Regions from separate parts of the Homo sapiens genome. Here regions 1 and 2 are each reported to be linked to region 3. The links are microRNA targets in miRTarBase. Many come from high-throughput screens and were not tested one by one. Region 3 holds a microRNA gene; each other region holds the end of a gene's coding sequence.
Evidence for each region. Region 3 holds the annotated microRNA hsa-miR-4782-5p (UUCUGGAUAUGAAGACAAUCAA, at 1,361-1,382, shown strand). A microRNA usually pairs through its seed, bases 2 to 8, with sites in the 3' UTR of a target mRNA and lowers its output. Matches are read on the target gene's strand: a 7mer-m8 pairs with bases 2 to 8, a 7mer-A1 pairs with bases 2 to 7 and ends in A, and an 8mer does both.

Region 1 (4,000 bases), not on the chromosome of region 3:
AACCATCCTGTCCTTCCGTGAATTCACCTACCACTTCCGGGTGGCACTGCTGGTGAGCAGGGGCATCCCACCTACCCTGGAGGTCTGGGCACCCCTGTCTGCGACGTGGGGCTTGAGGAATGGGGGGTTTGCACAGTATGTGGTAGGGCTGGGGGCACAGTGTCAAGCAATGTCAGCAGGGAGTGCCATCTGCCCCGCACCCCCAGAGCCACCTCACCTTCCCACTGCCCTTCCACCCAGGGTCAGGCCAACTGCAGTTCAGAGGCTCTCGCCCAGCCAGCCACAGACTACCACTTCCACTTCTACCGCCTGTGTGACTGAGCTGCCCTCCTGAGGCAGCACCACACCAGGGACCAGGGGTGCCCAGGCACCCCCCAACACTGGATGCAATGGTGTTACACTGGAGCCCGCTGCAGGCCAGCTCTGCTGTTCACTGGCCCTACCCGAGACTGGTGAAACTGGAAGTCTTCACACTGGAGTTGCTGTTCCAGCTGGTCGCCCCTCACGGCACAGAGGGAACCTGAGAGCCAGAGACTTCTTGGGCCTTCCTGCCTGCCACCCCCTAGGGGCCAGGACAGGACCAGTTTACCTCTTTCCAGATATGGTGGTTGGAGGGCTGGTTCAGGTGCCCTGGAGGGAAGGGGAAGCCTGTGGCCCTGATTTGTTCAGAGCCCATTCTCCCTTGCCTCCCCTTTTGAGACTGGAGCCAACCCTTTTGGAGAGAGGACCTGCCCACCTTTGAGATCAGCAGGGGGCTCGGATCCAGCCCTAAGAGACTTGGGTGGACCCCCATGAGTCAATGGAGGGCAGACGGCTCTCCCCCTTAAAGCTGTTCCCTGGGGGATGGCTTGGTAGTGGACTTTCTGGGGTTTGCCTGTTACGCCAGACTCGGACTTCTAAGCTTTAAGTGTGGCCCAGGAGGTTTCTTCTCCCTGGGAGGGCTTGGCTCCCAAGAAGTCCCAGGGCAGCCGAGGCCAGCCCTGCCTGGGTTGGAGAAACTGACTTTGTGCCTTAAGTCTACTCAGTGCCTGGTGAAGCCACCCTCAGCCCTTCACAGGCCTGAACCAGTAGGGGCCAGTGGGCCAGGTAAGCCCTAGAGCCTTGAACCAGGAATATCCAGGAAGAGGAAATTCCCTTTGAGCCCCCAGATGGTATTGCAGCTTCACTGCCTGCGTTCCTGGGAGCGTCTGGAGCTCACAGTGATCAGTGACCACATCATTCTCTCTGAGCAGAGGAGCAGGAATCCCTCAAGCAGCAGCCTGGTCTTGGCTGGTGGGCAGATGCAAATAGCTTTTGCTGTTATTAATGAAGTAATTACTAAATGCACTTAAACCAGGGCAGGAAGGAATGGAAGGATGGAGCTAGAAAGCTCAGAGTGGGCCAGAGCAGGGGTGTGACACTTGCAAAGACAGGGCTCTGACTCTGATCCCTCCCAGGGAGCCTCCGACACCCATCCCACTCCCAACCACCAAGACCCTGGGTTAGGGAAGAAGTTGTATCTTAAGTGCCACCTTCAAGTTTCTTAGTGGTGCCTGGTGCATTCCGAGGCTACATCCAGGCTCATGGAAGGAGTGTAGTATTCATTTAGCCATGTCTGCCATGGGTCCAGAAATGGGAAAGGGAATTGCTGTCCTTGCCCTGTGGTATGCTGCCACCTCTTTGGGAAGCAGGCCTTGCCCCTGTCCCACCACTCATTCTCAGCTTTGAATGGGAGGCCTTTCTATAGTGGAGGCCTTTCCTTGAAGCCTATGAACTGCAGGCCCCCTTTTGCCATTGATCTCAAAGCACTTGTCCTCAGGATAGGGAAGAGCAGGGGGATGCAGGAATAGCAGGGATAGCTTGCTCCCAGCCCCCTCCCCAATTTGGTTCCGTTGACATAGGAATTTTACGATTCCCAAACCATGCAGGGGCTGAGCCTTCCTTATGATGACTTTGTTCTCCCTCCCACTGGGGGAATCCTCCCTATGCCTTAAAACTGCCGAGCCCCACTCCATGTAATAGGATTCCTGGGCTTCCTCAATGGGGGTTCATGTTCTTGGACTGCGGGCCCTCAGTCCTTAACTGGAAAGTGACCGTCCACTGCCCCATGGAGCCCATCTGGACACAGCACAGCCCCAAAACCGTTAGCAGCTGGCTCTGTTTCCAAGCCTGGGGAGGGGTTCCTCAGTGCAGGAGTTGGGGACAGGCTGGGGATCCAAGCTGCTTGAGGGGGTCAACCTTGGACCAAAGTTGCCTTAAGCCTGTGGTAAAAGGGCTTCAGGGAAGGTAAGTGGGCCACCTGCTGGAAGCTGCCAGCTGCCCGGCTGGCAATGGTGTGAGTGTCTTGGCCCTGTCCCTGCCCTGGGGTCCAGCAGGTCATCCCTCCCTTCTTCTCTCTCCTTTGGCGTTTGTTCCTGTAGTCACTGGGCTAATCTCCCCCTAGCTTCAAGCTGTACATAGGGCCTCCCAGTGCAAATCCTCCTGCCCATACCGTGCACCCTTAGAAGCCTGCGTGTGCATAGAGCGCCCCCTACTTCCCAGTTAACTCCCAGTTCTTCTCCCTGAGCTTGGTATTTGTCATGTGCCAACTCTGACTCTGAGGTGGGCAGTGAGGGAAGCAGCCCCGGGCCTGCTTGCTTCCTGTCCCCGAAATGTTCGTTTCTTCTGAAGTAAATATACATATATAAATAAATGTATAAATACTGCTTTGTATCTGAGCTTGCCTCCTTGTCTCTTCTTGGGATTGGTCTGGTGGGAGAGGAGTCACCTATAAGGCTAGGGCCAATTGGAATTCAAAGTTCTTCCTGAGAAGCCTGGAATCTCTGAGCGCCTGAACCAGAGGGCCAAATGGATGCTTCATACCCCTTATCCTCTTAGCTTCATATTGGGGCTAGGAGTGGACTCATCAGCCTCTCCCATGGCCACACCTTCCCCTCCTGCGCACCCGCTGCTGCCCACCTGCATTAAAAGTAGCCACTGAGGAGAAAAGCCTTCTTAGGGGGAGAAGCTGAGCCTGGTGAGGATGCCCCAGCACAGAGAATGGTGGCTATGTTTATGGCAGGGACTGGCCTAGGGCAGAATGGACCGATGTGGGTTCCCAGAGAAGTTTGTCCTAGAAACAATAGAAAAGGGTAGGCCCAGACCCTATCCACAGGTAAGCCTTAAATTCCAATGACAAAACACCGGTGCTACACAAATCTCATCCCCCTTAAGTAGATCAGCAGCAGGAACTGTGAAAGGCAGATGAGAAATGGGAAAGGGAAGAGATTGGGGAAGCAATGTAGGTCCCAGCACCCACCACCCCTGCAGAATGGGCCCCAGACAGGACTGCTATACATCTGCATTTATTATGAGCAGCAGGTGGGACACTTCCAGCAACAGTAAAAAAAAGTAATTTACAAAAGCAGGTTTCAGTGAAGCCATCTGGTTGTTACCTAAAAGAGGAGAGGGGTATCAAAATAAGACCAATGGCCCTTCTTTCCTCCTTCTCTCCCTGCACCCCTGTGCTCCTGGGGCAAGGGCTATTGAGCACACACCTCTGAGGATGAGCCACCAGAGCTGATTCCTAGTGGCCTGTTTGGTGGATTGTCTGCAGCAAGTTTTAAGCCCTGGATCTTGACCCCCTTTCAGCCAGCTGACTTCCCAGCAGCCTCTCCAAGTCACTGGGGTCTGACTTCTAAGAATGTAAATGTACAGCCATGGGATGCCTGCGTCCACACTTCTAGGTGGTACATCCCAAAGGCAGATCGAGGCCTTGGGCCATGTGAGCTCAGAACTGAGAGTCACATTTGGCTCAAATCCGTATGAGGGGCAGGGAAAGAGGCACAAATGTCTAGTGTCCCTACCCATTCCACTGAGTCTGTCTCCATCAACCAAGGGGTCATGCTGGTAAGAGCTTTAAGGACCCTGCTGACCTGACTCTGGGGAGGCTTCCCTGGGCTGTGCCTTGGAGGCTCACGCATCCATCCCATTGCAGCTCTTACCCTTGGGTGCTCACACGTAGATGCCAACCCAGAGCAGC
Region 2 (4,000 bases), not on the chromosome of region 3:
AGGCCGGAGCTGTTGTCTCGCGTGGTTGGAGGTGGGCTCACCCAGCCAGGCAGCCTGCAAATTATTCTCTGGAGCCTCCCGGGGACAGGACACCGCCTCCCACCTCACACACCTGTGCTGAGGGCTTCCTCCCAGTTGGGAGGGGTGTGCCTGCTCCTGGCTGGATTCTGTCCCCACCCCCGGGGATGTGGCAGTGTCAGGAGACATTCTTGGTTGTCACGGCGGGTGGCGTGACTGTCATCCCGGGGATGGAGGTCAGGATGCTGCTGAACTTCCCACAGCGCACAGGACAGGCTGCGGCCTCCCACATCCGCCAAGCCTGCCACCCTGCCCTGGTTCTAGGGCACCAGGACACGCGTCCCTGGCTCACGGCCAGCCCAGGAAGCAAAGAGGCAGGCACCACGCTGGGGTTTTACCAGTTTTATTTCTAGACTTTCATGTTTGTCTTTTTGTCTTCTGCTGGAAACATGCCGGTTACATGTTGGTGCTGGGAAGCGCCGCGGTGCAACCAGAAATGCACAGACCCAGCCGCCCGCCGCCCAGACCCTCAGACTTGCGCGTCACAGGACAGACTCCGCTGTGCCCCGTGCACTTGCCACCAGCCTTTGGCCTCTCGATACACACAACATCCAGGACTTGTGCCCTTGCCCCATCACGACAGACAAAGCGTCCCTCAAGGCCCCCGCGTGGTTCAGACAGACGCCGCAGCCAGGATGGTTGAGGTAAGCGTGAGCCGTGTTCTGGAGGGGTGGGGCGGGGTGGGCCTGTGCCCGAGATGGCCTCCGAGCACAGGATGACCCTGCCAGGGCAGGGCCCCAACCACGTGGGCCCGCAGCGGGGTGCAAATTCTTTTGGTTCGGCAGCTTGCTAGGTGACCGGGGCACACAGCACTGTGAGCTGGCTTCATTGAGATTTGGAGTCTCTTTAAATTAGCATTATGGTGTAATTAACAAAACAATAACAAACAGAACACTAGTACATAACAGATTAAACATACCCAAAACTTGAACAAATTCCAGAAGCTATTCCAATCATCCCGAATGAGAGTCCTACAGGTACAACGCCGTGGTGGCACGTAAGACACACTTGTTATAATAATAATAATAATAATTATGCAACTTCCATAGCTACACGCAAAGAATAACACAGCTGTAAAAACTACTATGATGCTACGCCCCCGATCAGATGAAGTGCCCAGCATCACAGGCGCAGGGAAGAGAAGAGGGACACAGCCTGGTCTCTGGGGACACCGGCGCGGTTCTCACGCACGCGGCCTCGGGGCCGGCCCCCGCCAGCCTGTGTGGGATCGCGCCCGCGTGTCTGCCCGCCAAAGCAGGCAGAACCTGCCCGCTGGGTCCACCATGGCTAAGTGAAGCATGAGGTATTGTGAAACAGCAACCTTTTTGGAATAGAGCAGTAATCACATTAAGTCAAAATTGATCACATAAAAAAAAAAAAAACTACAAAAAAGGCATCTGTAATACAATGTTCTAAGAGAAAACTAAAACTAGTACATGGCAGTATATGACATTGTAAAACAAAAAACTGATCCTCCAATAGCAGCAAACAATGTGAAAGAGATACACAGAAGCGATGTGAATATTTCCAAACCGTGCCTGGAAGTCAACGGTAGCAGCGCAATAAGAAAATGGAGCTGCGGCCTGTCCCCGGTGTGGGCACCGCCCCTTCCCCTCGGGAGCCTCCTCCTCACACCTCCTCCCGCCTGTCCTCCCTCACACGTCAGCCTCCACACTCTTGCCACCTCCCTTCAACACTTCCTAAATAAAAATTACAAGAATTACATAGCCAAGATGTGCAAATTGTCTATTTTGTCACTAAGTTTTTTAAAGGAAGGGGCAGGGGATAAGAATTCATCGGAACCGAACTTAGGTTGAGTACCCTAATTTTCCTTGCACCCATGCCTGTCCAATCAGATGACTCTGGGAAACGCCAAACAGGCTGAATCAATGTCTTTGTGTGGTTTTTTTCTTCCAGATTGTTTTTTTCTCACCTATAAAAGGATCTATCTTTAAAAATAAACTGTATTAAATCTGTAACATCAAAGGCAGAAGGTTTGTGTGTGTGTGTGTGTGTGTGTGTATCTGTGTGTTTAAATCAAGGGGAGATTGCATTTATAAATCATACTGGCCTTATGAACATCCTCTGCAATAAATATACTTTTTAGCCTTAACTATAAATTATATATTTTAGTGTTTAAAAACCTTCCGGTGTGAAACATCTAAGATAACCCTTAAAAACCACCTGTTCTCTAGGTAAACCTCTGAGGTCCCTACTTTCAAACACCAGTTGGCACCAAAGGATTCCTAAACTTCAACTTCTTTAAAGAAAAGGAAAGGAACTTATCATCCTGGCAATGTGAGAATGCAAACCTTTTTCTTCTTGACTGGCACGCAGCCTCCCAAACACCCCACCTCCACTGCCACCACAGTGGCCCACACTTGCCTCAAAGTCCTGCTTGCAAACAAGTACATGGATATTCCCAAACCATTCCATTAGAAAACTGCCCTCCCTGCACACACAACAAAAACAGCGCTATTTCCTACACCTATTGGACTGAAAGTGCTTGGAAATGGAATGGTTTTAGAATATGAAGAAGAACACAAACCAAGTAGCTGTGGGTTGAACCTGGACGTGAGCTGGCTGCAGGGCCGTTGGGTAGAAAACCAGCATCTCATAAACAGGTCACTACAAAAATAGGAAGAGTATAAAAATAGAATATATTATGTCACTATTTCGTCTTCTCTTTATAGTAGCGTATCGTAGGAGTGGGACAGGTGGCCTTTCCCGACCCTGCTACGCTGGCTGGTGCCCGACAAACCTCCACTGGATGGTTTGTCACTGGATGGTTTGTTGGGGTGGTGGTCACAGGCGCAAAGGACATGCACACGGGCACGCTACGCTACTGTAACCAAGAGGTGACTTCAGCCATGAATAAGGTGAAGAGGTTACACATCTACCTACGGAATATAATAACATACAATGACTTATAAAGTGACTACATGCATATGAGCAAGCAAAGTACAGAGATGCCTAGAACCCCACTACAGCTGTGCTTTATCAGGAAAAGCACAAGAATATGTTTTTCTACCTAAAACCCTCTTCTACTTTAAAAATGGTTTGCTGAATTTTTCTATGTTTTTAAAATGTTTTTATGCTTTTTTTTAAACACGTAAAGGATGGAACCTAATCCTCTCCCGAGACGCCTCCTTTGTGTTAATGCCTATTCTTACAACAGAGAAACAAGTACATTAATATAAAAACGAGTTGATTATTGGGGTATAAAATCCTCTATCATCTGTAGCACAACCCTCCTCCCCCACCGCTCAGGGTTATGCAAATACTATTTTTTTTTTCTCTCTCTCTCTTTTAAAGACAGTTTTTGGGTAATCTTTTTCTTTTGCTTAAGTCAGAGATGGAAGGGGGAAAGAGCAAAGGAAAAAACAACCAACAACAAGGAGAATGAAGCTTTCCCTTCTGGTATCAAAATGCTCCGGAGAGGAGGGACTGTCAGGGGAGCACCTGGGGCCGGCTCCGCCCTCGCTGCGGGTGGCGGTGGCGCCCGCCTGCCTGGCGCCCTCAGATGTCCACGTCCCGCACGTCGGTGGGTGTGCAAGCCAGGTCCACCTCCTCCTCCTCCTCTTCCTCCTCCTCGGCGGCCTTGGGGTCCATGTTCTGCTGGGCCTGGCGCAGGCTTGACTCCAGCAGGGCTTCGATCTGCTCCTGGCAGGCCCGGAGGCAGTCCTGAGAGAGAGAGGGTGGGGAGAGGTGGGAAGAGGGGGTCCTTAGAAGGGGCCTGCAGCGAGGGCCCCTTCCCAGGTGCCATGACCCGGAAGCCTTTATAAGAGCAAGACTAAGCCAAAAACTGTCCCTCGGCCCATGCTGCCTCCTCTGAACCTGAGCGAGATGTGGGAGCTGCCATCACCTGTCAGGACACTCAGGACCAAATGCCTCCACCTCCCACCTGGTCTCTGGAGCCACA
Region 3 (4,319 bases):
TGCAGTAAAAGTTAGCCATCTCTCTCTGGACTCAGCAGAGTGGGTATCCCATCCCTTTTCTCTGAAGGCCTAGTATGGATGTGGGGATTCTTGTGATAAATATTGGCAATGCTAACACCGCAGAAAAGAGAATCTGGGATGTTTCTGCCAGCAGCCTAGAAGGGAAGAGTTTATTCAGTGCTCTTGGGTGAAGCAGGAAGAACAGAGGTATGCTGTTGCCCAGCACTGAAAGATGGAGCATAGCCATTTATCACACAGTTCAGTATATGTAGGCATTTAACTTTTAACTGCAACTACTAAGTCACAGAAGTATGTGTGTGTGTGTGTGTGTATGTATGTGTGTTTTAGTCTAATATAATTTGAAGAGGGAAATACTTCAAGGCCCAAAGGCTTATAATGTGTACAAGCAATAATCAAAATTTTAAACCTATTTTTCTCTAGGTCTTAGCCAGGCACAGTGGCTCACGCCTGTAATCCCAGCACTTGGGAGGCCGAGGCAGGCAGATCACTTGAGGTTAGGAGTTCGAGACCAGCCTGGCCAGCATGGTGAAACCCCGTCTCTACTAAAAATACAAAAATTAGCTGGGTGTGATGGCGTGCACCTGTAATCCCAGCTACTTGGGAGGCTGAGGCAGGAGAATCACTTGAACCCGGGAGGCGGAGGTTGCAGTGAGCCAAGATCATGCCACTGCGCTCCAGCCTGGGCAACAGAACAAGACTCCATCTCAAAAAAAAAAAAAAAAAAAAAGATAAAAGCAAAATATGCTTAGTGCTCTATATCCTCTTTATTTATAAAATAATTCTTTACTGATATTTAACTTTGTTTTATGGTCAGTAAATTCTTATTTGTCATGGTTAAAGAACTGAGATTCTTTCCTTAATTGAGAATTAATTATCTTACATAACTTGCATTTTCAAAGAATGTGGATATTCCATATAACACTAACATTGCACATTATTACACATCATTCTTTTATAGATTTAAGTAATATCTAGGCCCTTCTTCATCTTCAGGTCATAATCCTGAATATGAACCAAACTGGTTGTGAAACTGGGAAGGTGCTACTTGTTAGAGGATTTTGGTAGACTACTGTGTAAATCATCTTTATTGTACTGATATTTTAAAAACAAAAGCTTTCGTAGATTGAAAAAAATTGCAGCTTAATGTTCAGGAATTTTTAAGAAAATAGTCACAGGGGACCTAATTGTATTAAATGATTAGTCATTTCATAATTATCATTACAAACAATAATGGTTATAATTTGTTTAATAAAGTATTTTAGGGTAAAGACAAAACGGGGAAATGTATGCACATGCAATTAATTATAAAAACATAACCAAACTTTAACTGATTGCCCAGTTCTGGATATGAAGACAATCAAGAAAAGATTTGGTGTTCTTGATTGTCTTCATATCTAGAACTGGGCAGTCAGTTAAAGGAGCAGGCTGTGTGTTGGTGTCAGGATTGAGGTTAGGGAGATTCCATCTGGAAAAAGCAGCAGTGTGTGTCCAGAACTGTAACACAAACATAAGAGAAATCTACTTTTATAGGGTTTTTAGGTTTAATTAGCTAACTGTATTTATATATAGCTTCTGAAATGTTAGCATTTATTAACATTGTGCTTGAAACAAATTGGTTATTTAAATCTATTTATAATCATTTTATATAATAGAAAGCATCCTTGATCATATTCTATTTGATATTCAGATATATTTAGGAATTAGAAAAAAAAATTTTGTTTACATAGGTAATTTTCTTTGTTGTAATAAATGGCTTCGTTTCTTTTGTCTTAGCTTGTTGGAAATCAAATTAGAAGTTTTTTATTATGAGACAACATATAAACAGCTACATTGTGGAAAGTGAACTTGCCTTCTAAAGTCTTCTAGGGCTTTATCTATCTTTATTAAGTTTGCTTTGATTCAGTTATGAAATAAGGTTTTTAGTTGAATATTCATGAAATAATTCTATCAACTATATCTACATTTTTAATCGCATTATTTATAACTTCTTAATACCTTTTCTGATCTTGGATAATTTAAATGCAGCATGGTTTTTCCTGATTATTAGTCATTCTGGCAAATATTCCAGGAATATGTTAAAATATATTGGTAATTTCATAACTAAATGAAGGCTTTTCAGTTTAATGACTATTCTTTCCGGGGTCTTCTTAGGCTGACTCAGTCATTGTATATGAATACCATAGAAATAGGGCATGCATGTTAAAAATTGTCAGTTATTATTCTTGTGTTATGCATTGTGAGTTCCCTCATAAAAGACATTATGCTCACAAAACTCGTTTACTCTGACTAATGGTGCTATGAAATGGAATAGTATATGTTTTCCACCAGAGGGAGTCTTACCTATGATTCCATGCCCTTTTTTTTTTTTTTTTAATTCTCAAAGAGGGCAAACACAGTTTTCCTTTCCTATTTTATAGATAGAAGTTACTATTTTCATCATTATTTTTAAAGCAAACCTCCTGTGTGTTACACTTAAGTCTCAGTGGTTGATCAGTGTAGGCTTCTTTGACAATCGTTTCTGATCTTTAGCTGAGTCTAGATGGTAAAAGTGAACTAGTGAAAGGGAAGAATGAGTTTTGTTTTGGATGGCATCTCATTATTTTTTATTTTCTTTTTATTTATATATTTGTTTTTCTTATTTTTTTTTCTTTTTGATTTTAATACCTCCACCCTACTTACAGATATTTTTTATTTTCTTGACAACTCTGATAAATGATGGATTGGAGGATCAGACTTGTTGACATCACTGATGAGGCTTGTCTTGTTGCTTGTCTTCTCTGGCTAACATTCCTTAGTAAAAATATTTCTATATTTTTTTCTTTATTTTATTTGGTCATTATTTCATTTTGAGCTTTTTTCATTTATTACTAGATAAGCGAGTTTTGAGTGTCAAATTTGCACTTAATTTGTTTTTGGTACTGTCATAAGGACTGTAGCATACACAGCATACTACAACTGTAACTTTTTACGAAAATATACATTTTTTGAAGATGACTTCAGAAACTGAGGGAGAGAGACCCACTTGAGACTAGGCAGCAAACAGTGAAGAAGAAATGAGCAACATGGTGTGCAGGAGCAAAGTTTCCTACTGTATATCTCTACTCTAAGTGTACAATGCCTATAAATGGAAAGTATGCTTTCTTGGCTTTCCTTTAGCCTATTTTCCAAGCAAGAACTATTGTTGTTGGTAATTTAGGTGCATGGAATAGTAAGTTGAAGTCTTGAATTCTTATTTAATAATAATACACTTAATACATTGTCAGTGTTTAATTTTGTCTTCCCATTGTTCTTATTCCTGCTAGTTTTCACAAATAGAAAACTTACATTGAAGGGGAAAATTGCCTTAATGATAATTGTGGGTGTGTTTTTTCCTCTATCTTTTATTTTTAGGTGCAGTTTTCTTGGTTATTTTTTGCAGGAGCTATCCCTGTATTTTTTTCATTTTTTATTGTAACTCTCCTATGCCATTATAATAATTGGGATCCTGTGATGGTGGGAATCAGAAGAATATTTGCTTTTATATGCAGAAAACATCGAATTCAGAGGTAAGTTTAGTCCCAATACACATTTTTAAAAATAGTGTTTGCTAGATAACTGAGAATTGCATCATGCTGGCCTAGCTTTTAGAGATTTTGTGAGGAATTATTGAAAGATGATAACTTATATGTTACGGCAGATGAAAATAAAATAATTGGTTTAGATCTTTTGGGTAATAAGATTCTTTCTCCTTTCTTTCTTTCTTTCTTCCTTCCTTCCTTTCTTCCTTTCTTTTTCTTTCTTTCTTTCTTTCTTTCTTTCTTTCTTTCTTTCTTTCTTTCTTTCTTTCTTTCTTTTTCTTTCTCTCTCTTTTTCTTTCCTTTTCTTTCCCTCTTTCTTTCTTCTCTTTCTTCTTTTTTTCTCTTTCTTGACAGAGTCTTGCTCTGTAGCCCAGCCTGGAGTGCAATGGCACGATCTCAGCTCACTGCAACCTCTGCCTCCTGGGTTCAAGTGATTCTCCTGCCTCAGCCTCCTGAGTAGCTGGGATTACAGGCATGCACCACCATGCCCAGCTAATTTTTGTATTTTCAGTAGAGGCAGGTTTCACCGTGTTGGCCAGGCTGGCCTTGAATTCCCAACCACAAGTGATTTGCCTGCCTAGTAACTACATTTTTTTAAAAAAAATATGATTCACAGGTAATACCAAAAGGTTTACTGTTTTGCCATAACAAACTTAAATATAGAAAACTTTTATTGGTTTGAACATAATTCATGATAGAATAGTATTGCCTCAGTTTTTCTTTCCAATTTCTTTCTTTTTA

Region 1: miRTarBase lists MYRF as a target of hsa-miR-4782-5p. Seed matches in the 3' UTR shown: 7mer-A1 at 1,605-1,611.
Region 2: the mRNA of CCND1 is a reported target of hsa-miR-4782-5p. Seed matches in the 3' UTR shown: 7mer-A1 at 739-745.

Annotation. Positions count from the first base shown.
Region 1 is chr11:61,785,823-61,789,822 of GRCh38, forward strand. MYRF (myelin regulatory factor) reads left to right here. Exons shown (of 27, transcript NM_001127392.3): 26 at 1-52; 27 at 241-2,696. The coding sequence ends at 321. It overlaps TMEM258 (transmembrane protein 258), which reads right to left. Exons shown (of 4, transcript NM_014206.4): 3 at 3,963-4,000; 4 at 3,127-3,413. The coding sequence ends at 3,973. Among named protein-coding and RNA genes, the nearest start is that of MIR611, 4.7 kb to the right of the region's middle. RefSeq lists enhancers at 1-8, 9-753.
Region 2 is chr11:69,650,880-69,654,879 of GRCh38, reverse strand. CCND1 (cyclin D1) reads right to left here. Exons shown (of 5, transcript NM_053056.3): 5 at 406-3,762. The coding sequence ends at 3,598. Among named protein-coding and RNA genes, the nearest start is that of CCND1, 12 kb to the right of the region's middle.
Region 3 is chr2:113,718,401-113,722,719 of GRCh38, reverse strand. It overlaps MIR4782 (microRNA 4782), which reads left to right and starts at 1,352; the gene lies at 1,352-1,430. It overlaps SLC35F5 (solute carrier family 35 member F5), which reads left to right. Exons shown (of 16, transcript NM_025181.5): 14 at 3,412-3,566.